Linked DNA regions of Homo sapiens: region 2 is linked to region 1. The links come from fine-mapping of genetic effects on gene expression. A gene starts in region 1. The other region holds a variant in brackets. All regions are shown on one strand. Distances are between the middles of the regions. Region 1 holds the start of A1BG (alpha-1-B glycoprotein). Region 2 holds the start of ZSCAN22 (zinc finger and SCAN domain containing 22).

Evidence for each region. PIP is the estimated chance that this variant, and not a neighbour inherited with it, causes the effect.
Region 2: its variant is fine-mapped to the expression of A1BG in whole blood (TOPMed, PIP above 0.99).

Annotation. Positions count from the first base shown.
Region 1 is chr19:58,346,746-58,362,725 of GRCh38, reverse strand. It overlaps A1BG (alpha-1-B glycoprotein), which reads left to right and starts at 9,234. Exons shown (of 8, transcript NM_130786.4): 1 at 9,234-9,322; 2 at 9,399-9,434; 3 at 9,529-9,798; 4 at 10,171-10,443; 5 at 11,039-11,335; 6 at 12,075-12,356; 7 at 15,086-15,373; 8 at 15,697-15,980. The coding sequence starts at 9,289. The coding sequence ends at 15,704. ZNF497 (zinc finger protein 497) reads left to right here. Exons shown (of 3, transcript NM_198458.3): 1 at 1-49; 2 at 4,141-4,237; 3 at 5,077-8,369. The coding sequence starts at 5,091. The coding sequence ends at 6,587. It overlaps A1BG-AS1 (A1BG antisense RNA 1), which reads right to left and starts at 10,756. Exons shown (of 4, transcript NR_015380.2): 1 at 9,682-10,756; 2 at 9,252-9,347; 3 at 8,869-9,012; 4 at 7,543-8,357. It overlaps ZNF497-AS1 (ZNF497 antisense RNA 1), which reads right to left and starts at 100. Exons shown (of 3, transcript NR_136527.1): 1 at 1-100. It also overlaps the pseudogene LOC100419840. RefSeq lists enhancers at 281-410, 140-688, 14,635-14,714, 14,931-15,431, 15,485-15,764 and 1 more and a silencer at 14,905-15,234.
Region 2 is chr19:58,325,822-58,337,971 of GRCh38, reverse strand. ZSCAN22 (zinc finger and SCAN domain containing 22) reads right to left here and starts at 10,978. Exons shown (of 3, transcript NM_181846.3): 1 at 10,858-10,978; 2 at 2,767-3,220. The coding sequence starts at 3,169. LOC105372480 (a long non-coding RNA gene) reads left to right here and starts at 10,724. Exons shown (of 3, transcript NR_144444.1): 1 at 10,724-11,149. It overlaps MIR6806 (microRNA 6806), which reads right to left and starts at 3,284; the gene lies at 3,221-3,284. RefSeq lists enhancers at 10,678-11,007, 10,351-11,093. The variant C/T (reference allele first, on the strand shown) is at 8,868.

The DNA of each region.
Region 1 (15,980 bases):
GGGCCTCTTTCAGGCCGCTCCTAGTGGACGCAGAGGCGGGCCGAGGACGGTGAGTGACGCCGACGGACACCCTCGGCCAGGCACAGATCCGCCCTCCGGCTCCAACCACTCCCGCCGCGCGGGGCAGGACGGGCCTCGGCCCTGAGCTGGGCCCTCTGGGACCACCGAGAGATAGGCCTCCGCGCCGTCCAGAGCGGCCCGGAAGTGGCCCTGCACGGGCCAGAGGCGACCGTGGTCGGGACGGAAATGGCTCCCGTTTGCTGTTCTCTCGGTGAACGCGAGCCTTATGGCGATCAGTTCTGTGGCATCGTTCCTCCTGCTCGTTTATTCTTTCACTCATTCACTCATGCCCTGCCGCGCCATCATTTCTTCCCACATTCATTTATTCGTTCATCAGTCCCCAGCCCCGGGTAGTTTCGGAGCTCACCAGGCTGGGCTCGCCTCCCAGCCTCCGGAGCTGCCCGCACAGGCCTCGCGCCACCTGGCCGCAGCTTCCTCCCCTTTATCCACTCCGTATTTGTTTGTCCAGCCTAGGCCTTGGGGGTTGTGGGGGAGACACAAGTACCCGTGACTGGTCGGACAAGTGCCCGTTGTTGGGGGCGTGGGCGCTGGGACTGACGCGGGAGGTGGCTCTGATCATGTCGAGGTGAGGAGGAGGCGTTGAGGCTCAGAAAGGGCACGCAGCGTGGACGTGAGGACGTCGGGGAGGCTGGAGCAGTGAGGCCGACAGGAAGGACCTTACGGGGCTCACATGCTATCCCACGACGAGGACGGACTCAGGACGGCAGCCCTGATAGATGCGGCTGGGGGCTGGCGGGTCGGGGTCGCACACCACAGGATGGAGGGGCAGCGGTGCCTGGCTCCGCCTTAAGAAACATGGGCCCTTGGGGGACCCGGATTTCTGATACTTCAATACACAAATATGGATTTTTATTGAAATCAGATGTCGTTTTTTTAAAATTTAACTTTTGATTTGAGGTAATTATAAATTCACATGCAGTAACAAGTAATGCATACCCTATGTACGCTTTACCCAATTCCCCTAAAGGTGGCATCTTGAAAAACTAGAGGCCAGGTGCGGTGGCTCATGTCTGTAATCCCAGCACTTTGGGAGGCCAAGGCGGGTGGATCCCTTGAGCTCAGGAGTTAAAGACCAGCCTGAGCAACATGGTGAAACCCCATCTGTACTGAAAACACAAAAATTAGGCGGGTGTGGAGGCTGGTGCCTGTAATCCCAGCTACTCGGGAGTCTCAGGCAGGAGAATCGCTTGTACCCAGGAGGCGGAGGTCGCGGTGAGCCCACATCACGCCACTGCACTCCAACCTGGGCAACAGAGCGAGACTCTGTCTCAAAAAAAGAGAAGAGAAAGAAAAACTAGAGTACAATATCACAACTGAGATGCAGAATATTTCCATCACGAAGGATCCCCGTGTTGCCCTTACAGAGCCGCATACCCTTCCCTCCTACCTCTGCTCCCCGTTAACCTCTTTTTGTCAACTAGTAATCTGTTCTCATTTCTACCATTTTGTCATTTTACGAATGTTGCATAGGCTGGGCGAGGTGTCTCGCGCCTGTAATACTAGCACTTTGGGAGGCCGAGGCGGGTGGACCATCTGAGGTCAAGAGTTCAGGACCGGCCCACCGGCCGGGTGCCGTGGCTCACGCCTGTAATCCCAGCACTTTGGGAGGCTGAGGCGGGCGGATCACGAGGTCAGGAGATCGAGACCATCCTGGCTAACACGGTGAAACCCCGGCTCTACCAAAAATATAAAAAAATTAGCCGGGCATGGTGGCAGGCGCCTGTAGTCCCAGCTACTTGGGAGGCTGAGGCAGGAGAATGGTATGAACCCGGGAGGCAGAGCTTGCAGTGAGCCAGGATAGCGCCACTGGACTCCAGCCTGGGCGACAGAGCAAGACTCTTCTCAAAAAAAAAAAAAAAAAAAAAAAAAAAAAAAAAGAGTTCGGGACCAGCCTGGCCAACATGGTGAAACCCCATCTCTACTAAAAAATAAAATAAAATAAAATAAAATAAGCCAGGCCTGATGGCAGGCATCTGTAATCCCAGCTACTGGGGAGGCTGAGGCAGGAGAATCGCTTGAATCCTGGGGGCAGAGGTTGCAGTGAGCCGAGATTGCGCCACTTCATTCCAGCCTGGGTGAAAGAGCGAAACTCCGTCTCAAAAATAGAAAAATAAAAAATAAAAAAATTAGCTGGGTATGGTGGCACGCACTTGATGTCCCAGCTCCTTCGGAGGCTGAGGTGGGAAGATGGCTTGAGCCTGGGAGATGAGATTGCACCACTGCACCCTAGCCTGGATGACAGAGCCAGACCCTGTCAAAAGAAAAAAAAAAAGAAAAAGAAAAAGAAATGGAGTCATACAGTTTTTAAGCTTTTGGGATTGGGTGGTAACTTTTTTAAAAAACATAAATACCATACAATTCATCCTTTTAAAGTGTGTAATTCAGTGGTTTTTGGTATATTCAGTGTTGCACAGTCATCACCACTAATTCCAGAATATTTTCATCACTCCCACGGCTGTATCTCCCATTTCTCTCTTCCCTGCAGATCCTGGCAACCGCTGATCTACTTTCTGTCTCTTACAGACTTATCTGTTCTGGACATTTCACATAAATGGAATAACATAATATGAAGTCTTTTGTGTCTGAATTTTTTCATTTACACTTAGCATAATATTTTCAAGATTCATCCATCTTGTAGTATGTATCAGTATTTATTCTCTTTTTTTTTTTTTTGAGACAGAGTCTCACTTTGTCACCCAGGCTGGAGTGCAGTGGCGCGATCTCGGCTCACTGCAACCTCCACCTCCCGGGTTCAAGCAGTTCTCTGCCTCAGCCTCCCGAGTAGCTGGGATTACAGGCGCCTGCCACCACGCCTGGCTAATTTTTGTATTTTTAGTAGAGACGGGGTTTCACCATGTTGGCCAGGCTGGTCTTGGAATTGCTGACCTCGTGATCCACCCACCTCGGCCTCCCAAAGTGCTAGGACTACAGCCGTCAGCCACCGCACTTGGCCTAACTTAAATTTTTAAAACACTTCCTGGAGGGGACAAACAGGACCCATCTGCTGGTCTGACTCTGGGTGTCCTGTTCACAGTCTCTGTCTTAGTTGTTCTGTGTGTGGGATGAAGGGTGCCAAGGAGACAGGGCAGGGCAGGGACCCTCAAGAAAAGCGGGGAGGCGGGGGGAAGGGATGGTACAAGCAGCCATGGCACCTCAGTGTGTCCCTCAGGCACCTGGACACACAGGTGGGCAAAGATGCTGACACTGGGGGCCAGAAACGCCGATACCCCCATTCTTCCATTTTTACTCAGTCTCAGGTGGTCCCAAGGAGGGGACCTTCGTGGCCTTGCTGTGCTCACAGGCTCACCTTTGTGTTTCCAGCTGCAGAGAAAGTACCCTGGGCCATGCAGCTGCACTCCCCTCCCAGGAAAGGGGCAGGATGGCTGCCCAGATGAGTGAGGCATCAGCCCTGGCCCCCCAGGTCTTCCCGAGTCCACTGGAACTGATGGTGGGTGAGCCCAGCTCCAAGAGCCCTGGCCAGTGCTTCTGGGGGTTCTGCTATGAGAAGGCAGCAGGGCCCCGAGGGGCCCTGGCTCAGCTGCGTGAGCTGTGTTGCCAGTGGCTGATGCCTGAGGCCTGCTCCAAGGAGCAGATGCTGGAGCTCTTGGTGCTGGAGCAGTTATTGGGCACACTGCTCCCAGAGATCCAGGCCTACACGCAGGAGCAGTGGCTAGGCAGCCCTGAGGAGGCCACTGCCCTGGCAGAGCGGCTACAGCAGGAGTCAGCTGGGCCAGGACTCCAGATGAGTGGGGGCTGGTCTGGGGGCTGGGTGTGCTTCCCCTGCTCACGACCCCAGCTGAGCCAGCACTGGGGCCAGTCGTGGGTTGGTGGCTGAGAGGGCCTGGGGGCTGTGGGAAAGTGATGGTGACAGGTGGGAGTTTGGTGGTCTTGGCTTGGACGGCAGAGTCAGAGATCTCCAGTCCACACCTGTGTGCTCCGCATTGTGTCCTGAGAACTGAAGGTGCAGAGAAGGGTGGGTCATGCCACCGCATGCCCCTTGTTTTCTCAGATCTGCTAGGCTGAACACCTCACCCTGCCCTGCTGCCTTCCTGTCCCCAGGTGCCAGCCCCCAGGCCCCAAGAGGAGCTGGTCCCCAGGACAGAGGAGGGAGAGGAGCAAGAGGCTCCCCTGGGCCCCTTCCAGGCCCCACCTCCAGGTATGGCACCATCTACACACTTGTCCCTGCCCTGCCTTGGCAGCGGGGCTGGAGACTACACAAGGATGATAAGGTGCTCAGGGCAAATGAGGATGGGTTTTGCTCGCTGTAGAGACTTCGCTGTGGGAAGGATCGGCTGGACAGGCAGGCATGGCCTTAGGACCAAGGAGGCCCTCCCACCCTTGGCCTCTCTCTCTCTCAGGGATCTGGGCTGCACAGCCACCCCATGCCTTGGACCACCTGGTCTGACCTGCACAGAGGCCTGGTGTGGACATTGCCTGGGTAACAGCCACTGAGATCCTCCAGCCTGGACATGCTGCCCATACTGTGTGGAGGGGACTACCCAGGGATCCGGCCAGGGTGGAGTGGGTGAGGCAGACATAGCTGTGTTTGGGTCAGGCGGTGTCCTCCAGCCTTCAGGAATGGAGACGGGTCCATCGTGTTCCTCACAAACTGGAGTCTCCACCTTCTTGACACTTGGGGCCCCACCCTGTGAAGCAAGGAGAGGAGAGTGGTGCCACAGTAGGGCCAGTGCAGGTGCGTGGGCAACTTTGAGTCCTTCTGCGATGCTGGCGCCCCCTCCCCTCCTGCTGGGCCGGGCCGGGTGTGGGGATGTGCACGTGGCCCTGTCAGGCAGGCCCAGAGTGCTGGCCCATCCCCCGAGTGTCTAGCCCGCCTGCTGGCCTTCCTGCTCCAGGCTCCAGAGGGCATTGGGCATCCAGGGACCTGGAGGAGAAGAGTGGGGGATGACAGCCCACCCACCGTCGTGTCCCCCTCAGGCCCTCTGTCTGGTGTTCTTTGTATTCTCTAAGGTACTTGCCTTTTCTCTCCTGTTTTAGGTCACAGGCGCGAGATGGAGTCCCCAAGAGGGTGGACCCTGCAGGTGGCCCCAGAGGAAGGCCAGGTCCTCTGCAATGTGAAGACTGCCACGAGGGGCCTCTCTGAGGGGGCTGTGTCTGGAGGCTGGGGGGCCTGGGAAAACTCCACGGAGGTTCCGAGGGAGGCAGGGGACGGCCAGCGGCAGCAAGCCACACTGGGGGCGGCGGACGAACAGGGAGGCCCCGGCAGGGAGCTGGGCCCCGCAGACGGTGGGCGGGACGGGGCTGGGCCCAGGAGCGAGCCTGCAGACCGGGCGTTGCGCCCTTCGCCTCTCCCAGAGGAGCCGGGCTGCCGGTGCGGGGAGTGCGGCAAGGCGTTCAGCCAGGGCTCTTACTTGCTGCAGCATCGGCGCGTGCACACAGGCGAGAAGCCGTACACGTGCCCCGAGTGCGGCAAGGCCTTCGCCTGGAGCTCCAACCTCAGCCAGCACCAGCGCATCCACAGCGGCGAGAAGCCCTACGCTTGCAGGGAGTGCGGCAAGGCCTTCCGCGCGCACTCGCAGCTCATCCACCACCAGGAGACACACAGCGGCCTGAAGCCCTTCCGCTGCCCGGACTGCGGCAAGTCCTTCGGCCGAAGCACCACGCTGGTGCAGCACCGACGCACGCACACGGGCGAGAAGCCCTACGAGTGCCCGGAGTGCGGCAAGGCCTTCAGCTGGAACTCCAATTTCCTGGAGCACCGGCGCGTGCACACGGGCGCGCGGCCGCACGCCTGCCGGGACTGTGGCAAGGCCTTCAGCCAGAGCTCCAACCTGGCCGAGCACCTGAAGATCCACGCGGGCGCACGGCCACACGCCTGTCCCGACTGCGGCAAGGCCTTCGTGCGTGTGGCGGGGCTGCGGCAGCACCGGCGCACGCACAGCAGCGAGAAGCCCTTCCCCTGCGCCGAGTGCGGAAAGGCTTTCCGCGAGAGCTCGCAGCTCCTGCAGCACCAGCGCACGCACACTGGTGAGCGGCCCTTCGAGTGCGCCGAGTGCGGCCAGGCTTTCGTCATGGGCTCCTACCTGGCGGAGCACCGGCGCGTGCACACGGGCGAGAAGCCTCATGCGTGCGCCCAGTGCGGCAAGGCCTTCAGCCAGCGCTCCAACCTACTGAGCCACCGGCGCACGCACTCGGGCGCCAAGCCCTTCGCCTGCGCCGACTGCGGCAAGGCCTTCCGCGGCAGTTCCGGCCTGGCGCACCACCGGCTTTCGCACACGGGAGAGCGACCCTTCGCCTGCGCAGAATGCGGCAAGGCCTTCCGCGGCAGCTCCGAGCTGCGCCAGCACCAGCGCCTGCACTCTGGCGAGAGGCCGTTCGTCTGCGCCCACTGCAGCAAGGCCTTCGTGCGCAAGTCGGAGCTCTTAAGCCACCGGCGCACGCACACGGGCGAGAGGCCCTACGCTTGCGGCGAGTGCGGGAAGCCTTTCAGCCACCGTTGCAACCTCAACGAGCACCAGAAGCGGCACGGGGGCCGCGCTGCGCCCTGACCCGAGGACGCCCTGAGCGGGAGGTCGCGGACACACGGCATTGCGGGGTCTCGGGCGTGAGTGCGCTGTCTGCTGGCCCAGACTTTTTCGGGCCGCCGGTGCGGGCGCCCTCCTGCTGGGAGTGCAGGGGCGGCCTTGGGTGTGGAGAACCCTGGCTGCACAGTCCCTTTGACGATAGTCCACCGGCCACCCAGGCCTGTCTGGGGACATGTAGGATGGGCTCTTACCCCAGGGAGGGCGGCAGGCTCCACTTCGGCGAGAGGTTCGTCCATGCAGAGGTGGGCAAGAACTGGGGTCTCCGACAGGTGTGGCTATTTCTTTGAGTTCTCTGGCACTGTCAAAAGCAGCCAACCCACCCCCCAGTCCACATGGTCACCACTGCTGCTACCAGCTGCTCAGTGCAGTGGCCACTGTGTCTCCTAAGGTGCTCGCTTCAGTCAGCACTTCATCTCAGGCAACCACAGGTGACAGTTAAACATGATGAAACCGCATGCTATGGCTTTCTAGTGTCTCATATTCTGTTGGCAAGAAGCTCAGCACTGCATTCCTGACCGAGGTCAGAACCAGATCAATCTCAGAATCTCACCTGTGTAGGTCTGTTTCATGGGACTTTTCTTTTTTGGGGGAGGGGGCAGGGTTTCACTCTGTCACCCAGGCTGGAGTGCAGTGGTGCAATCACTGTTTATTGCAGCCGCGACTTCTTAGGCTCAGGTGATCCTCCCACCTCAGCCTCCCAAGCAGCTGGGATGACAGACTTGCGTCACTACACCTGGCTAATTTTAAAATTTTTTGTAAGGACAGTGTCTCACCATGTTGCCTAGGCGGGTCTCAAAACTCCTGGGCTCAAGTGATCCTCCTGCCTCAGCCTCCCAAAGCGTTGGGATTATAGGCGTGAGCCACCGCACCTGGCCAGGGAACCTTCTTTATACCAAGTACCACACCAGTCAGAGTCAAGTCAGGAAATAGAAACCACACTAGGTATTTCAAACAGAGGGGATATAAGTTAGGGACTGATTGTGCAGGTTTTGCAAGGCTCAGAGAGCAAAAGTGGATGTTGCAGAATCTCAGAGCTGGATACTTGCAGGAAGCTGCTACCACCCTTAGGGCTGGAGAACCCAGGGAAGCTAAGAGGAGGGTGCAACGAGGCTGGTGTTGGGACTGCCAAAGGAAACACAGAATGACAGCTCCATCTCTGCAGACCTCAGATTTGACCAGGCCTCTGGCTGCCTGGGCAGCCTCATTGCCAATGGGCTGAAAGGTTCTGTCACTGTTCAGTGGTCTGACTTCTGAGTTCTGTGCACACCCTGAGCTCTGCTCCTCTGGCCTGGCCACCAGTCCTTGTCTGAGTGCCCCAGGTCTGGTTATGACTTCAGGCCTCAGCACCTGGTTGTCTCTTCTGCAAAGAATGCATTCTCCCCCAGTCCACCCAGAACACACAGCCTCCATCCAGGTACTGGCTCTGAGCAGGACAGAGAGCATGCAGCAGGTGCTCAGCAATATGGAAATGGGACCAAACAGAGGGAGTCTCCACAGCTCCCCGTCCCTCACAGCAGAAGCCAGAGCCGCTGCAGTGCCCAGCTGGTCTTCATCACGTCTATGAGCTCTGCAATCGCTCTGCAGTCGCCTCAACTCCTGGTCTCCTCTGCTCCTTCTCACTGCACCCGCATCTCCCATGTTTGCACTGGCTGTTCCCTCTGCCTGGAATGCTCCTTGCCCAGTTATCCCACTGTCTTCTTTGCATCTGGCACACAGTAGATGCTCAATAAATGCCTGTGGAATGAATGAGTGGGGAGGATGCAGTGCAGGGGGCAGATGAGGGCTAGGCGGTTGCCCTGGGCCCTCACACTCGTAGCGGAGCTAGGCTGGGACACCCAGGGTGGGGACCAGACCTCCCCGGGTGGGAATGACAGGATGTCCATGGAGGCTGAGTGTGAAAGCACCACGGTCTCACCCCTGTCCTGTTCCATCCCAACAGGCTGTGGTGAGGAGAGGGGGAGGCAGGGGAAGCGGGAGGCCTGGCCTCCAGGCAGCAGGCTATAGCCACATGAGTGACCACCAGCAGCTCAGGTAACTGAGCACATGTCACGGGTAGGCCTGGGAAGCGCAGGTCTCAGCTGAATGACCTGGGTGGAAATCCGACTCCAGAGCCGTGGTGGGTCACACCATGCAGAATGAACCAGTGATGGAGAAGGAACCACAGTCCTCAGGAAGAGTGAGGGTGCACCTCCAGACAGCCCATGTGAGGGCAACCGCAGAAAGTCTGAAAAGAGGTGAACCCCACCTTTGGTGTCACATGTGCAGTGTGGTGTGACAGGGAGGGGCTCGCTGGGCTTCAGCCCCGGCACTCTCCACTTGACCTCAGCAGCTCCAGGTAGAGTGGGGAGAACTCAGCGTCTCCTTCTAGAACAGGTTCTAGGATCCATCACTGAAATGAGGATGAGGTGGTTTTAACATCATTTTATCACTCTTGATTTAGTTTATTAATCATACATGATTATTGATTATAATTGTTGCTGGGCATCCTGAGGCCTCAGAAGTTCACCCTTTGCCCTGACCCCATGGGGGCCCTGCCCCCGCCTTCCGGGAAGGACAAACACGGGAAGAGGTCAGTGCCCGAGCCACCCCACCGCCCTCCCTTGGGGCCTCATTGCTGCAGACGCTCACCCCAGACACTCACTGCACCGGAGTGAGCGCGACCATCATGTCCATGCTCGTGGTCTTTCTCTTGCTGTGGGGTGAGGCCTCCTGGGGTCTGGGTCCCTGGGGCGGGAGGGGGCGGGAACAGGAGCCTTACGGGGGCTGTCTCCGCAGGTGTCACCTGGGGCCCAGTGACAGAAGCAGCCATATGTGAGTGCAGGGGTGAGGTCTGGGAATGGTGGGCCCAGGCCGGGGGGGAGCCCTGTCTCTGTGGCACTGAGCTGATCCCAGCCACCCCTTGCAGTTTATGAGACGCAGCCCAGCCTGTGGGCAGAGTCCGAATCACTGCTGAAACCCTTGGCCAATGTGACGCTGACGTGCCAGGCCCACCTGGAGACTCCAGACTTCCAGCTGTTCAAGAATGGGGTGGCCCAGGAGCCTGTGCACCTTGACTCACCTGCCATCAAGCACCAGTTCCTGCTGACGGGTGACACCCAGGGCCGCTACCGCTGCCGCTCGGGCTTGTCCACAGGATGGACCCAGCTGAGCAAGCTCCTGGAGCTGACAGGGCCAAGTGAGCCGGGGCATGAATTGGGGGCCAGGAGGCAGTGGGTAGGTTGTTGACTGGGGGGTCTCCCTTCCTCCAAGTCACCCGATGTCTCTGAGCCCCAAGCCCCAATCTTCCCATCTGTCAAATGGGGATGATGTCTGTGTTGTAAGGAATACATGGTTGTGTCCCCAGCAGGCCCGGCATGCCGTACAGCTCCCACACACTCTTTTTCTCTTGCCGTATGCCTTGTTTCCACTGGTGCCTGCCTGCCTTTTCCCAGCAATGCCCTCCATCCCTGTCTCCTTCACAGTCTTATGAGTGTGGGGCCCAGGTTCTGCTGGGCTTCCCACGTCTCCTGTTATGCAGAAGCACTCTTCAACTCCACCCCACCCACAGAGTCCTTGCCTGCTCCCTGGCTCTCGATGGCGCCAGTGTCCTGGATCACCCCCGGCCTGAAAACAACAGCAGTGTGCCGAGGTGTGCTGCGGGGTGTGACTTTTCTGCTGAGGCGGGAGGGCGACCATGAGTTTCTGGAGGTGCCTGAGGCCCAGGAGGATGTGGAGGCCACCTTTCCAGTCCATCAGCCTGGCAACTACAGCTGCAGCTACCGGACCGATGGGGAAGGCGCCCTCTCTGAGCCCAGCGCTACTGTGACCATTGAGGAGCTCGGTGACTGTGGGAACCATCTCTGGGGGCTGCTGGGGGAGGAGGATACAGGGGGCATGACCACATTCATCCTGACCTCCATGCTGAATGTCCTTGCCCAGGACCAGGTCCAGGAAGCTGGCCACACGGTTGCCTGGGTCTGATGGTTGCAAAGGAGTTTGGGCAGAGGATGCCCAAAGAATGGAAGGGTGAGGCCGGGTGCGGTGGCTCACGCCTATAATCCCAGCACTTTGGGAGGCTGAGGCCAGCGGATCATGAGGTCAAGAGATCGAGACCAGTCTACCCAACATGACGAAACCCCGTCTCTACTAAAAATACAAAAATTAGCCAGGTGTGGTGGCAGGTGCCTGTAGTACCAGCTACTCAGGAGGCTGAGGCAGGAGAATCCCTTGAACCTGGGAGGCAGAGCTTGCAGTGAGCTGAGTGGCGCCACTGCACTCCAGCCTGGGCAACAAGAGCGAAACTCCGTTTCAAAAAAAAAAAAAAAAAAGAATGGAAGGGTGTTCCTGGGATTGCCACCCGGAGGGCAGAGGTCTGGGGACTGGGCAGAGGGCAGCTCCAGGGATGGGGCAGCCTAGTAATGCTGCCTGCATTGCAGCTGCACCACCACCGCCTGTGCTGATGCACCATGGAGAGTCCTCCCAGGTCCTGCACCCTGGCAACAAGGTGACCCTCACCTGCGTGGCTCCCCTGAGTGGAGTGGACTTCCAGCTACGGCGCGGGGAGAAAGAGCTGCTGGTACCCAGGAGCAGCACCAGCCCAGATCGCATCTTCTTTCACCTGAACGCGGTGGCCCTGGGGGATGGAGGTCACTACACCTGCCGCTACCGGCTGCATGACAACCAAAACGGCTGGTCCGGGGACAGCGCGCCGGTCGAGCTGATTCTGAGCGATGGTGAGCCGGGGCCAGCAGGGACAGGGACGCGGCTGGGTCCCTGGGGAGCAGGAGCAGTACCAGGTGTAGAGTCTGGGGAAGTGCAGTGCTCTGGGCCAGGGTCCAATACCAACTTTATCCGCCCACCCGCCGATTCAGGGTCCTAAACTGCAAATATGATGATGAGCGTGACAACCTTCAGGCCCCACAGGGAATAACTGGGTGAACAGGTCTGGCCCAGGCCACAGGGGGCACCACCTGGCAGGTCCCATCCCAGCTGCCAGGTCTAGGTGAGCACTGAGGGCCTCTGCTGAGGCAGCTCCTCCGCTCGCTTGCCTTGGACCTGATGGTATTTAGCAAACTCTGAGCACCGGACAGCGAACCCCATGCCCAGCGGACCACAGGGGCCCCTCCGTGGGGCGGGCATTGGGGCGGTGCTCAGAAGACGCTCGTGGAGCAAATCCACTACTGAGCGGCATCGTGCACCAGGCATCAAGCCATGCACAAAACATGTCCCCGTCCCCGCTTCCCGTCTGTGTCTGTAGACAAACAAATTACTAAGAAACAGTGAAAGGGTGCGTGTGAGATATCCAAGGACTGGGATGCAAAGGTGGGGCGGGCCCGGAGGAGGCGAGGGAGGAAGCTGGCCAGGTCATTGCGGGCAGAAGACTCAGCCAAGGCAAAGAGCGCGAGGCCAGACCACGCGTTAGGGCCGAGCCAGCCGCTGGGCGCCCGGGTCAGCCCGTGTGCTGCTCCGCAGAGACGCTGCCCGCGCCGGAGTTCTCCCCGGAGCCGGAGTCCGGCAGGGCCTTGCGGCTGCGGTGCCTGGCGCCCCTGGAGGGCGCGCGCTTCGCCCTGGTGCGCGAGGACAGGGGCGGGCGCCGCGTGCACCGTTTCCAGAGCCCCGCTGGGACCGAGGCGCTCTTCGAGCTGCACAACATTTCCGTGGCTGACTCCGCCAACTACAGCTGCGTCTACGTGGACCTGAAGCCGCCTTTCGGGGGCTCCGCGCCCAGCGAGCGCTTGGAGCTGCACGTGGACGGTGAGCTGGCGGGGCACCAGCGAGGGCGGGCGCGGGTTCAGTGCCCCTCGGGGCCTCCTGTCTTTCCCCTCTTTCCTTGGGCGTCCGACGGCGGCGCTCTGGGCCTTGGTTCAGCCCCCATCGCCTACCCCGGCGGGGAGCAGGCGATCGGTGGTCGAGGGTCTGGGGACGCCTGGAATTTCGGCTTATTTCCCACGGACGCAAGCCCGTAGGTCACGTGTAGCGTGGTGGTCGGCAGCAGGGAGGCTGGCCCCAGGTTTTCTTGTTCAGATCCCTGCAGCTCTGTGGCTGCCTTGTTTTATTACTGGCCATGTCAGTCGTCATACTGGACCCCCCGCCCCGGCCCCGGTCCCGCAGGCGCACGGCTGATGTGTCCTTCTCCCCATCCCCGCCGTCCCCAGCTCTGTTTGTCCCTCTGATTTCCTCATCGACGTCTCCAGGACTCAGAGCCCAGCAGAGCGTGAGGGCACAGGTCTGACCTCCAGATCTTGAGGTCGTACCCTTTGCTGGGAGCACCGTTTTCTCTTTTCTTTCACTTTCTTTCTTTTCTTTCCTGCCTTCCTTCCTCTTTCTTTCTTTCTCTTTCCTTCTTTCTTTCTTCCTTCCTTCTTTCTCTCTTTTCTTTCTTCTTTTTTCTTCTTTCTCTCTCTCTCATCTCTGCCCCCCAACCCCATCTCTCTCCTTCATTCCTCCCTTTTCTTCTCCTTTTTGTTTTTTTTTTGGATAACTTACTTTTATTCTTGCAGGCCGGAGTGCAGTGGTGCAGTCTCAGCTCACTGCAACTTTCGCCTTCTGGGTTCAGGCAGTTCTCCTGCCTCAGCCTCCTGAGTAGCTGGTATTAGAGGCGCATGCCACCATGCCCACCTAATTTTCGTATTTTTAGTAGAGACCGGGTTTTGCTATGTTGGCTGGGCTGGTCTTGACCTCCTGACCTTGTGATCTGCCCGCCTCTGCCTCCCAAAGTGCTGGGATTACACTTGTGAGTCACCATGCCCAGCCTATTCTTGCAGTGTTATAAGCCACCATCCACAATTGATGAAAAATGTTTAATCTTGGCCAGGCAAGGTGGCTCACGCCTGTAATCACAGCACTTTGGGAGGCCAAGGCGGGTGGATCACAAAATCAGGAGTTCAAGAGCAGCCTGGCCAACATGGAGAAACCCTGTCTCTACTAAAAATACAAAATTAGCCAGCTGTGGTGGCACATGCCTGTAATCCCAGCCACTTGGGAGGCTGAGGCAGGAGAATTGCTTTAACCCGGGAGGTGGAGTTTGCAGTGAGTCCAGGTCATGCCACTGCATTCCAGCCTGGGCAACAAGAGCAAAACTCCATCTCAAAAAAAAAAAAAATGTTTAATCTTTAAATTGTACATCTATATCCTATGACTCCAAATTTTATTTATCACTCTCCTTAAAGTCTGAAGAAAATGATTAATTTACTAAGCTCCAAAGACAACACAGTCCCACTGACATAACATTTAGTATGATGTCCTACTCTCCTGTTAGAATTAAGAACAGCCAGTATCAAACTGGCCTGAAATCTGATTGGGTTCCTGGGCTCAGAATAACTGTAGTAAATTTGTAAATCCACACTAAGACACAAAATTAAACTAGGATGTGTATATCTATCTTACAAGAAAACGTTTCACAGTAAAAATTAACATTATGATTTTACCAAATTTCAACATTATAGTTTGTTAATCCAATCAAGCTTTCAAAATTCCTGATTAGCTTACAATTAATTGCAAATAACTTCATGTAGTTTGGCTAGCATTTCAAAATGGATAGGGAATATAACTTTTAAAATGCGAAAGTATATTATACATATTGCACTTTTCTGCTAGGCTGGGCTAGTATCTTCCATGGCAAGATACTCAAACTATTGAATAAAATACACATTTAAATCAAGCACTTACATGTACTTCATTAATTTCCCTGAAATTATCAACAGCATTACCAAAATCTTCCAGGATTTTGTAACATTTGATTCCTTACAGTTTTGTTTTGTTTGTTTGTTTTTGAGACGGAGTGTCACTCTGTCACCCGGGCTGGAGTGCAGTGGCGCAATCTTGGCTCACTGAAACCTCTGCCTCCCAGGTTCAAGCAATTTTCCTGCCTCCACCTCCCGAGTAGCTGGGATTACAGGCGCACGCTGCCACGCCCGGCTAATTTTTTGTATTTTAGTAGAGACGGGGTTTCACCGTGTTACCCAGGCTGGTCTGGAACTCCTGAGCTCAGGCAATCCGCCTGCCTCGGCCTCTCAAAGTGCTGAGATTACAGGTGTGAGCCACTGCGCCCGGCACCTTAAATACACTTTTAAAGTTAAACTTATGGAGGGAAAACCCTCATCTATTGACATAGATTGTATGTCCTTTTTTGGTCCCTCCATGAAGGAGCACCGTTTTCTCCATCATTTCTTCTTCCCTTCACCCGTCAGAGTGACCGAGGCTGGGGACCCCAGAAGCCCCAGAGCAGGCCCGAATCTGGGACTTCCACGGTCCTGGGGGAGGGGTGCGGGGACACTCACGTGTGGCGCGGATGTCCGGGGTGTGAAGGCAGCGGGCGCAGCTCGGCGGCGCCGGAGGAGCCCTCTGCGCCCAGGAACAAGACAGGGAAGATGAAGCCGGGGCTGAGGCGCAGGCGCGGGCGCGGCCTGGGGTGTGGCCTGGGGTGTGGCCTGGGGCGTGGCCTGGGGCGTGGCCTGGCCCGACCACCCGCCCGCTCCGCCCAGGACCCCCTCCCAGGCCTCAGCTCCGGGCGACGTGGAGTGGGGCGGTCCTGGCGGGCCGAGATGCCGTCCTGCGCTGCGAGGGACCCATCCCCGACGTCACCTTCGAGCTGCTGCGCGAGGGCGAGACGAAGGCCGTGAAGACGGTCCGCACCCCCGGGGCCGCGGCGAACCTCGAGCTGATCTTCGTGGGGCCCCAGCACGCCGGCAACTACAGGTGCCGCTACCGCTCCTGGGTGCCCCACACCTTCGAATCGGAGCTCAGCGACCCTGTGGAGCTCCTGGTGGCAGGTGACGTTTCCCTGGGTCCCGGGTGCTGGTTCCGTCTGCTGATGTTTGCCTGGGCTGTGCCCACCTCCAGGAGGGCCTCTCCCGGCTCCTCCCTTGGGCACCCCTGGTTAGCGCTGGGTCTCCCCAGGGCTCGTGGGGGAATTGCGGGCGAGGAACCGCCCAGCAAAGGCCCTGCAGCTGGAGGCGCAGATGGGGGTCTCGGCTGGCAGCCGACCACGCGCTTCCTTCCGGGGGGGCGTCAGGGAGGTCGGCCTTGATTTCCGCGAGGAGGAGGGCATAGGATTTCCCCTCCTCCACCATTTCTCTTTTCTCCCGTTGTCTAGAAAGCTGATGCAGCCGCGGGCCCAGGGTGCTGTTGGTGTCCTCAGAAGTGCCGGGGATTCTGGACTGGCTCCCTCCCCTCCTGTTGCAGCACAAGGCCGGGGTCTCTGGGGGGCTGGAGAAGCCTCCCTCATTCCTCCCAGGAATTAATAAATGTGAAGAGAGGCTCTGTTTAAAATGTCTTTGGACTCCCAGGGCTGAGTGGGCTGGGATCTCGTGTCCTCAAAGTGGATGGGTTCTGGGGTGGCTCCTGAGGTAGAGGAGTGGAGAACTGGCTCTTAAGAGC
Region 2 (12,150 bases), 23 kb after region 1:
AACCCTGATGTGGAACTGATCTGGAGACAGAGAGAGAGGGAGGGTCTGTCCTTGTCAGGACCCTGAGCACATGCACCCCTGCAGGCTCTGATCTCTGTGGGGTTGCAGTTCTGTCCCTCACACTCAACACCTTGCGTCTAGGCCTGGATGTGTCCCCTGCAGGCTCTGATCTCTGTGGGGTTGGAGTTCTGTCCCTCACACTCGACACCTTGCGTCTAGGCCTGGATGTGTCCCCTGCAGGCTCTGATCTCTGTGGGGTTGGAGTTCTGTCCCTCACACTCGACACCTTGCGTCTAGGCCTGGATGTGTCCCCTGCAGGCTCTGATCTCTGTGGGGTTGGAGTTCTGTCCCTCACACTCGACACCTTGCGTCTAGGCCTGGATGTGTCCCCTGCAGGCTCTGATCTCTGTGGGGTTGGAGTTCTGTCCCTCACACTCGACACCTTGCGTCTAGGCCTGGATGTGTCCCCTGCAGGCTCTGATCTCTGTGGGGTTGGAGTTCTGTCCCTCACACTCGACACCTTGCGTCTAGGCCTGGATGTGTCCCCTGCAGGCTCTGATCTCTGTGGGGTTGGAGTTCTGTCCCTCACACTCAACGCCTTGCGTCTAGGCCTGGATGTGTCCCCTGCAGGCTCTGATCTCTGTGAGGTTGCGGTTCTGTCCCTCACACTCAACACCTTGCCTCTAGGCCTGGATGTGTCCACAGGTGCTCAGTGAATTCTGGCTGAATGAGGGAATCCATCCAGAAGCCCACGATGGTGAAAATTTCTGCAAGTAGAACCCCAGGTAGAATATGGCTGCTGGGGGTGAGTACATGAGGTACCCATCTGGCCTCTCAAGCCCCTACATTGTAAAGTACTATGAAGGCAGAGTGTGGCGGAGGTGCTCTTGGAGATCAGAGTGTGCATGAGGTAGAGGAATGCTCGCACTGACCTGCCCTGCATGGGTGCAAAGGACACATAATCTGGCACATCTACTGGATGGATTCCAGGGAGGAGGCAGAGACAGGTGGAATACCCACTGCTCAAGTCCACAGTGGGGCTCAGCAGTGCAGAAACTGGACTCAAACCCCAGGTCTACCACCTTAATCAGTCCTGCCCTCATCTGGGACTCAGTCTCCCCATCTGTAAGCCATGGATGCTGTGCCGCTGGCCTTCCAGGGCCACTAACCACTATCAGGCTCTTGTCGTGCTGGGCCCCAAGCACAGTGGGTGACTTCCATCGCCTCATTTCAGCTTCGACCTGCTCTCAGAAGGAGGTACTGCTGTGATTCTGTTGCAGATGGGGAAACTGAAATCCAGCTGAGGGAAGGTGTTGAGTAACTGGTACAGGATCACAGTTAGCTAGTGGCCCAGTTGGGATTTCAGCTCCAGAATGTTCTCCTCCAGGTCCACAGGCAGTCTCCCCTGCTCCCCCAGCCATCTGCTTGGCCCTGTCTCCCCCTTCCTTCCTCTATCCAGAAACATCACACCACCTGCTTTTACCAGAATACACCAGTGCAAATCACACTGCCAGGCCTTTGACCCCACCATTCCCTCTGCATTTTACCCTTTCTCTGAGCTTTGGCCAACCCTGTGGGAGGATGGGGCCACTCCCTCCTTCCTCTCCCTGTCTCTGTGACATCTGCTTGGGCATAGACCAACCTCTGTTCCAGAGAGGCCTGTTTCTCCCAGAGCTGAACAAATTATCCTAACAGTTGCAGTTACCATTTATTTAATCTGTGCCAGGCACCATTTCAGGTGCTGCACGGGTATTGCCTTGTATCTCGCAACACCACTAAGGTGGGCGTTTTTATTACAATCCCCATTTTACCCATGAGTAAACTGAGGCACAAGGGAGTCACATGGCCAGGAAGAGCAGCAGCGGTTGGATCTACTGAGCCTTGATGATGCAGCTGTATCCAGACTCCACATTCCTCCTGCACACTGCACGTTTCCTCCCAGTGTGTGGTATGCCCACCTCCTATCTGTTGCCAATAGGCCAGGCCAAGCCCATCTGAGACGAGCCACCACTCCCTGCTCTGGATTGTCCCAAGGCTGGGTCTTCCCTGCATCCCACTGGACCTCCCTGGGTTGGGATGTTTGTGTGGGTCTCTGTGAGTAACAGTGCCCAGCTGAGCCTGGGGCAGGTCTGACCCACCCAAATCCTGGAGGCCAGCCCAGGGTGGGCATAGAGAAGGTACACAGGGACATCTGGTATTTCCGTCACCCCCAACAGCCACCCCAGGCACCCAGGCCCTCGTCTGGTTTCCTCTGAGAAACAGCCAGTTGCTCACTGTTAGTCCCTGGGATTTGGTTGGCCAAACACAAACATAAGATCCCAACCAGGCCAGTGGGGGCTCAGACCAGGGACCTCTTATTGTTATTACCCCGGGGTTTCTACATTGGTAAGACATAAGCCTGGGGTTCCTGGCTATCTTTAACCCCTTTGGAAAGAGAACCTAAAATAAGAATGAAGCTAACACAGAAAAAACCAACTGAGAAACAGAACAAGAGAGGAAGAAGAGAGTTCTGATGCTGTCAACAGATCTTCTGGATATAGCCGTATCTGCTGCCTCCTTACCCTTCTTTGCTTCAGCCCATTTCAGCTCGCTTTTGGTCACCTGCAACCAAAACACACCTGTCTACAACAGTGTGTGAGAGTTACGGTAAAGTACAAATGTGAGAATGGGTGCATGAGCAACCCCAAACCAGAGCCCTGTGCTCCCATGTTCCTGTCCAGGGTGTATCTCTGGTGTGCCGTGAAGCTGCCCACGGCGCCCCTTTACCTCTCTTGTCCAGCACCTGAGTCAGATCCTCCACCAGCACAGCGGCTTCCTCTCCGCTCTTGGGACTCTGGGCTCCCACCCAGGCTTGGATCTCTGGGGGCAGCGCACCCAGGAACTGCTCCAGCACCAGCAGCTCCAGTATCTGCTCCTTGGAGTGCGCCTCGGGCTGCAGCCACTGACAGCACAGCGCTCGGAGGTGGGCCAGGGCCTCGTGTGGACCAGATGCCTCCTCATAGCGGAAGTGCCGGAAGCGCAGGCGTGCAGCCTCAGAGTGAGCAATGTGGTCATGGCTGGATTCTCCGCCCTGGGAGAGGCTGGCTTCCTCTTCCTCCTCCACCTTCACTTGAAGGAAGCTGTCCTCTTCCCACGGCACTGGGCTCAGGGAGTGCTTGGGGATGGCCATCGGGCAGCAGTGCTCAGTGAGACACAGGATGCCGGAGCCTTGGAACTGGGCCTGCAGGAATGTCAGAGCTTCAGCATCACATGGAACCTGGGCCCTGCCTCATGCCTACAGAGCAGGGAAAACACAGGCTTGTGGCCCGTGAGATGTGAAAGACTCTCACAAAGACATAGACAATCCTCATAATTAGGACAGCACCCACTTGGTGCTGAGCACTGTTCTAAGCTACTACTGCTTGCATGTAGACTCATTTAAAACTTACAACAAACACCATCCTGGCTAACATGGTGAAACCCCGTCTCTACTAAAAATACAAAACAAATTAGCCAGACGTGGTGGCGGGCACCTGTGGTCCCAGCTACTCAGGAGGCTGAGGCAGGAGAATGGCGTGAACCCGGGAGGCGGAGCTTGCAGTGAGCCGAGACTACGCCACTGCACTCCAGCCTGCGCAACAGAACAAGACTCTGTCTCAAAACAAAAACAAACAAACAAAAAACTTACAACAAACTCAGGAGGTGGGACTTTCTACCTATTTTATGGATGGAAAAACAGACACTCAGGAGGAAAATATTTGCCCAAAGTCCCTCAGCTAGTGAAGGGTTAACAGAGAGCTAAGCTACAAACCCACGCAAACCTACAGCCAGCCTGTTTAAGGCGTGCTCCTCCCCAACAGAGCCAAGTCTTTCTCCCTCTGTTCCCCAGGTAGCCACATGGTCATTCTCTCACTTTACTTGCTAATTATTTTGTAGTGTTTGAGATTGATACATAATTGACTTTCGCCTTTCCTCTTTTCTAATGCACATATTTAAGGCTATAAATTTCTCTCTAAACACAGCTTTAGCTATACATCACAAGTTTGATATGTTGTATCTTCATTATCATTTAGTTAAAAATATTTTCTAATTTCTGTTACAATTTCTACCTTACTCATTAATTATTTTTTAAAATTTATTTTATTTTTTTGAGACGGAGTCTCCCTCTGTCGCCCAGGCTGGAGGGCAGTGACGCTATCTCGGCTCACTGCAACTCCGCCTCCCGGGTTCAAGCAATCCTCCTGCCTCAGCCTCCCAAGTAGCTGGAACTACAGGTGTGCACCACCATGTGAGGCTAATTTTTGTATTTTTAGTGGAGACGGGGTTTTGCCATGTTGGCGGGGCTGGTCTCGAACTCCTGACCTCAAGCGATCTGCCTGCCTCGGCCCCACAGAGTGCTGGGATTACAAGCATGAGTCACCATGCCCAGTCCCATTGGTTATTTATTTAAAACTCTCCTGCTTCATTGCCAAACAACTGGGGGTTTTCTAGTTGTCTTTTTATTACTGATGTCTAGATTAAGTCTGTTGTGGTCAGAAAACATGCTACAATGGATTTCGATCATTTAAAATTTGCTGAAACTTGGTTTGTGACCCAGTGTATGGTTAATTTTGGTTAATGTTCCATGAATACTTGAAAATAATGCAAAGCTGTCTTAGCTATGACACCAAAAGCATAAGTAACAAAAGAAAAAATAAATAAACTGGACTTTATCAAAATTAAAAGCTTTTGTGATTTGAAGGACCACATCAAGAAAGTAAAAAAGCAGCCCACAGAGTGGGAGAAAATATTTGCAAATCATATATTTGATAAGGGACCTGTATCTAGAACAACTCCATAGTAAAAAGATGAATAATACAATTTTAAAATGAGCAAAGAATGTGACTAGACATTTCTCCAAGGAAGATACACAAATGGGCAATAAATACATGAAAAGATGCTTAACATCACTAGCTACCAGGGAACTGCAAATGAAAACCACAATGAGATAGCACTTCACACCTGCTGGGATGCCTATAATCAGATAACATGTGTAGGCAAGGATATGGAGAAACTGTAATCCTCATATGCTGCTGCTGGGAATGTAAGATGGGATAGCCACTGTGGGAAGTACAGTCTGGGAGTTCCTCAAAAGCTTAAACAGAGTTACCCCATGACCTAGCAATTCTACTCCTACGTATAGACCCAAGAGAAATGAGTATATGTCCTCACAAAACTTTATACATAAATGTGCATAACAGCATTACTCATAACAGCAAAAAAGGAGAAACAATCCAAATGTCCACCTGATGAATGGATAAAATGCTGTATATACCTATAATGGAACACTATTCACCATAAACAGAAATGAAGTACTGATTAATGCTACAACATGGATGAACCTTGAAAACATGATGCTAAGTAAAAGAAGAAAGACACGGCAGGGCACGGTGGCTCACACCTGTGATCCCAGCACTTTGGGAGGCCGAGGTGGGTAGATCACCTGAGGTCAGGAGTTCAAGACCAGCCTGGCCAACACAGTGAAACCCCGTCTCTACTAAAAAATACAAAAATTAGCTGGGTGTGGTGGCAGGCACCTGTAATCCCAACTACTCAGGAGGCTGAGGCAGGAGAATCTCTTGAACTTGGGAGGCAGAGGTTGCAGTGAGCCGAGAGTACACCACTGCACTACAGCCTTGGCGACAGAGGTAGACTCCATCTCAAAAAAAAAAAAAAAAAAAAAAAGCATATTAGTGTTTGTCAGAGGCTGAAGAGAGACAAAAATGAGAGTGGTTGCTAATAGGTTTGGGAATTTCTTTTGGGGATGATAAAAATGTTCTGGAGGCCAGGCGCGGTGGCTCACGCCTGTAATCCCAGCACTCTGGGAGACCGAGGCGAGTAGATCACGAGGTCAGGAGTTCAAGACCAGCCTGACCAATATGGAGAAACCCCATCTATACTAAAAATACAAAATCAGCCGGGCGTGGTGGTGCATGCCTGTAATCCCAGCTACTTGGGAGGCTGAGGCAGAAGAAACCCTTTAACCTGGAAGGTGGAGGCTGCAGTAAGCCGAGATTCTGCCATTGCACTCCAGCCTGGGCAACAAGAGTGAAACTCCATCTCAAAAAATAAAATAAAATAAAAATACAGCTTTTAAAAAAATAATGTTGGCCAGGCACGGTGGCTCATGCCTGTAATCCCAACACTTTGGGAGGCCAAGCTGGGCCGATCACAAGGTCAAGAGATCGAGACCATCCTGGCCAACATGATTAAACCCCGTCTCTATTAAAAATACAAAAAAATTAGCTGGGCGTGGTGGCGTGTGCCTGTAGTCCCAGCTACTTAGGAGGCTGAGGCAGGAGAATCTCTTGAACCCGGGAGGTGGAGATTGCAGTGAGCCGAGATCACGCCACTGCACTCCAGCCTGGCAACAGAGACTCCATCTCAAAATAATAATAATAATAATAATAATAATAATAATAATAATAATAATAACGTCAGCTGGACGCGGTGGCTCACACCTGTAATCCCAGCACTTTGGGAGGCTGAGGCAGGTGGATCACAAGGTCAGGAATTCAAGACCAGCCTGGCCAGCATGGCGAAACCCCATCTCTACTAAAAATATGAAAACTAGACAGGCGTGGCAGCGGGGGCCTGTAATCCCAGCTACTTGGGAGGCTGAGACAGGAGAATTGCTTGAACCCGGGAGGTGGAGGTTGCAGTGAGCAGAGATTGTGCCACTGCACTCCAGCCTGGCCGACAGAGTGAGATTCTGTCTCAAAAAAAAAAAAAAAAAAAGTGCATTTGATAATTGTTGGGTGTTCTCTCCCTTATTTAAGTCAGGCCTCTACACAAAAGACGCCTTATCAGTAAGTCTCTGTGCTTCTACACTGCTTTATTTGCTCTTTACCACCTGATGTGTGATACACGTATGTGGTTACTTGTTTATTATTTACTTGTCCCTGTTGGAGTATCAGCACATTAAGGGCAGGGGTTTTTGTTTAGGTCTTTGCTTTATCCCCAGTGTCTACAGCATTGCTGGGCACATACATCAATAATAATACTTTTGTTCAGCACAGCCCCATTAGGTGCCTACTCTGTGCCCAGCACTGTACTAGGAATGCAAATACGGGGAAGGCATGGGTGCTGGGCTCAATGGCCTCAACGGAAGGACAGCGACCAACACATGATAAGATAATTATGATGATGGATATGGGTATAGTGTGCAACAGGAATAAAAGAAAATGGGAACAGACAGTCAGTGGGAACCTACCGGCTACCAGGCCACACTAGCCTTTGGCATCTGTTATCCCATTCAAGCCTTAGCTCCACCCTGTGAGTCAGTATTACCACTCCCATTTTCCAAGTTGGGGAAAGTCAGCTGCTAGAGTCATCTGGTCAGTAGGAACAAAGCTAGTGTTTGAGCTCAGGCTATCTGCGATCTTTCCTCCACACTCAAAGCCTTTCCAAATTCTAGAACTGTGAGCACTGAATGCTGGTCAGGGACAGCAAAAAACTACTTTCATGTACTATTGGTGAGGGCAATCAATTAGAATATCTTTGGCAAACAATTTGGCAGTATGTTGTAAGAGCTTTAAAATGACTGTGCTCTCTGCCTCAATATTAATTCTACTTCTCAGAATCTAGCCCCATTTCTAGATGGGGGTGCTACCGACATTCAGAGGGAGATAATACTTTCTTTTTGAAAAAATTCTTTTTTTCTCCAGACGGAGTCTTGCTTTGTCGCCCAGGCTGGAGTGCAGTGGCGCAATCTTGGCTCACTGCAAGCTCTGCCTCCTGGGTTCACGCCATTCTCCTGCCTCAGCCTCCCGAGTAGCTGGGACTACAGGCACCCACCACCACACCCAGCTATTTTTTTTTGTACTTTTAGTAGAGACGGGGTTTCACCGTATTAGCCACGATGGTCTCGATCTCCTGACCTCATGTTCCGCCCACCTCAGCCTCCCAAATTGCTGGGATTACAGGCATGAGCCACTGCGCCTGGCCGCATGTAGGCAATGCTTAACTTTTTAAGAAACTGCCAGGCTGTTTTGCAAATTGGCTATACCATTTTGCATTCCCACCAGTTGTGGATGAGGGTTCCAATTTCTCTACATCCTTACCAAGGTATTTTATACTATGGTAGTTCCCCCTTATCTGCAGGGGATGTGTTCCAAGACCCTCCAGTGGATGCCTGAAACCATGGATATTACTGAACCTTATATATTCTATATTTTTTTCTTATTATATACCCTTGATAAAGTTCATAAGTTAGGCATAGTAAGAAATTAACAACAATGACTAATAAAATAGAACAATTATAACAATACACTGTAATAAAAGCTATATTAATGTGGTCTTTCTCTCTCTCTCAAAATATTTTATTGTACTATATTCACCAAAACTGAAGATGAGGGGTGACTACTGTATTACTTTTCTTGACATTCTCTACTTCCCACAGTGAATTTGTTTTCTCTTATAGTCAGGAAGAATACCCTAAATTAAGTGTAACCTCTCCTAGGAGACCTCGACACTTTGCTTTGGCCACATACTACTCCTTACTCAAAGACTTAGCCTCTCCCTCTCCCATCCACGACTCCCACAGTTTTAAGTATTTGGAGTTCTTTTTCCTTTCCTTCAATGTCAGCCAGGACGCTCAGTGTGCCTGGAGTCTCTGCTCAAGGAAGTCACCCTGGACAGAGATGCAGGAGGCCTGAGAAAGAGCAATGGCCTTGGGCACAGGAAGAAGAGAACGTTACTCTAAAACAAGACCCCAATCCTGAAACCTTTTGGTGACCGCTGGTGACCTCTGGTGGCCTCTGGCCAAGCTGCGTTTAAGCCCCTTCGCCGCACTGTAAAGTTCTCCTGGGTCTCTTGTGGCCTTTCTAAGCCCCTTGTCGCCCCTGCTG[C/T]TCTCGAGTTCTGAAATCCGTCTCTGACGGATTCCTCTGGGCTCTCTAGGCCTCATCTTAGCTGCCACTTTCCTCAGGTGTCATCCCAGATACCTGGTACTAGTCTAAGTCCTCTTCCCAGAGTGCCCTGGGTAACTCTTTGCTAGTTCTGTACTGTTTCCTCAGAGAGGCTGGGCTGTCCTGGAGCCACAGCACACAGGACTTGCCCTATAGCAGGTTCACAATAAGCAGGCATTAAGCAAATGGAATGACCAGTAAAGGCTGAGCATGGTTACCCAAGAATGTAGGGAATCATGAGGGGAAGGAGGAGCAAGGGTGGCAGGGATGACAATAGATGCTGCAACAGCTTCCAAGTTCTCTTTTGCACCCCTGGAACACCTGTTCTGGAGAAATCCCTCATGACGGTCTCTGAAATACATGTATGTGAAACTTCCTCAGCCTCCTCAGCCAACCTCAACTCCTATCAGGTTGAGGTTCCCCATCCACAGCTGCTTTACCAACCAAGGAGGGTGGTTCTTTTCATTTCTCACACATGGATTATACCAAGCCTGATAATGGTACCTACCTCAGAGGGTTGCTATGAGATTATGTGAGGTGATTTATTATAAGTGTCCAGCACAGGCCTGGTGCACAGTAAACATGCAGTAGATGTATGGATACCATAGCCCCCTGCTACACGTAAGCAAACACTGGGGGACATATCCATAAGCCCAGCTGAATGACCACTAGTCACTCAGTTTCAGCTGCAGACATGGCAAAGCACAAATCCTCTCTCATATGCTTGGTAAACTGTTTGTGGATCACCCAAGTTTTAGTCTCCCTGATAAAAATCTCAGTCAATCAGATATTAACACATATTATCTCAGGTACAGTCTGTCAGCCACAGCCTTCAAAATACCCAGACACAGGAAATATCTCAATGTCACCTATAATCAGTCAAATAAACACAGGCCTGGCCAGGCATGGTGGCTCATGCCTATAATCCCAGCACTTTGGGAGGCCTAGGCAGGTGGATCACCTGAGGTCAGGAGTTCCGGGCCAGCCTAACCAACATGGTGAAAGCCCGTCTCTACCAAAAATACAAAAATTAGCCAAGTGTGGTGGCCGGTGCCTGTAATCCCAGCTACTCGGGAGGCTGACGCAGGATAATCGCTTGAACCCGGGAGATGGAGGTTGCAGTGAGCCGAGATTGCGCCACTGCACTCCAGCCTGGGCAACAGAGCAAGACTCCGTCTCAAAAATAAACACAGGCCCTCGCAGCATTTCCATCACACAGTATTATTCTGATCACAGTCATTCATAATCTTAGTCACCATCTCAAGGACACACAAAGAAAATCAGTCACACTTGAAATCCCACCGTCACACGCTCACCCTCTCACAGTATCTCACAACCCACGTAGGAAGTCTCAAACGGCAACCATCTCTGTCAGTCACACACTCCATGGTTAGTGTTACACTCAACCTATCAGAATCACACACTCCAACCCGTCAGATACACACACCCAAGAGGTGTCAGACACAGAACCGCCTATCAGACACATAAACGGGTCCGCCCCACACCCTCCCAGGCCACTGGTCCTACATTTTATCTGTTATCTGTCCGCCCGCTCCACACTTCGTCCGCCCCACACCCGGTCAATCAGTCCATCCGACACACACTCCGTCAGTCCGACACATTCTCCGTCGGTCCGTCCGGCACTCAGTGTGTCATTCCGCACCACATTCGGTCCGTGAGTCTGTCCACACCGGGTCCGTCAGTCCGTGCACACACGGTCCGTCCACGCCTGGTCCGTCAGTCCGTCACATCCTCTGCGCGTGTGTCCGGCACTCGCAGTCCGTCTACTCACGTCCCCTAGTCAGCCTCTCACTCTCTACCCGCTGGGCGGTACCCCGCATCTCGCTCTGGCCGCCCCAGAGGTTCGCGGCTTCTGGACCTGCTGTGCCCCTCTCCAGCCTGGATCAGGACGGAGAACACCCCCGAAACCCACCTCACCAGCACAGCCGGCGGACCCTTCCGGAGGTGGCCGCAGAGACTAGCCAACTTGCGCGCCCGCCGACCCGGACCACAGCTCCCAGCACACCTCAAGGGCCCACGCCCGCCAGGACTACAATTCCCGGCGTCCTCCGGAAGCTCAAGTGTACCCAGGCGCGGTGCCTGCTGGGAATTGTAGTTGACGTTGGTCAGCACGGAGGCCACAGGATCCCAGCCCGGCCTTTGTGGGACTGAGGTGGCGCTGAGTGGGAGAGCAGCAGGCGATGCGCGAAAGGCGGGACTTGGAGGTGAGGGAAATGTGAAGGCTGAGGGTGAGAGTGCCTGTGTGAGGCTGAGGGTGCCTGTGTGAGGGTGAGGGTGAGGGCGGCTGTGTGAGGGCTGAGGGCTGAGGGTGCCTGTGTGAGAGCTGAGGGTGCCTGTGTGAGGCTGAGGGTGCCTGTGTGAGGCTGAGGGTGAGGGCGGCTGTGTGAGGGCTGAGGGTGCCTGTGTGAGAGCTGAGGGTGCCTGTGTGAGGCTGAGGGTGAGGGCGGCTGTGTGAGGCTGAGGGTGGCTTTGGGAGGGCTGAGGGTGTTTGTGTGAGGGGTGAGGGGTAAGGGTGAGGCAAGAAAATCGGGTCTGGAGGCAGGGAACCTAAGGACTTCCTAGAAGTAAATCAAATGGAAACTGCAGCTATGGTAGGAAATATCCTCTCCATTTATGCAGGGCGTACATGGAGTAAATCACTTTGTAACTTTACTTCGTCCTCTTCATTTACATAGGGCATATACCAAGTAACCAATGGAAACCTCTAGAGGGTATTTAAACCCCAGAAAATTCTGTAACCGGGCTCTTGAGCCCCTATGCTCCGGCCTGCTCCCATACAGTGGAGTGTACTTTCATTTTCAATACATCTCTGCTTTTGTTGCTTCATTCTTTTCTTTGTGCATTTTGTCCAATTATTTGTTCAAGATGCCAAGAACCTGGACACCCTCCACCAGTAACAAGGGTACCTGGGTGAGAGGTGAGGGTGCCCATGTTAGGAGTGAGGGGAGAGGGTGCCTGTCTGAGGGCTTGTGGGTGTGAGTGTCTGTGTAAGTACTGAAGGTGCCTTTGTGAGAGGTGAGCGGTGTGGTTGCCTATGTCAGGGTGTGTATTGAGTGTAGCTATGTGTGGCTCTCTGTGAACACATGTAATCATTTTTATAAATGTGTATCATTTTTTACTGAATTTGAGCTGGGCGTCTGTCTGCATGAGTCACTCTGTGACCAGGTTTGTGGGTTGTTCTGTGTGCTTACTCTGCGTGTGTGTG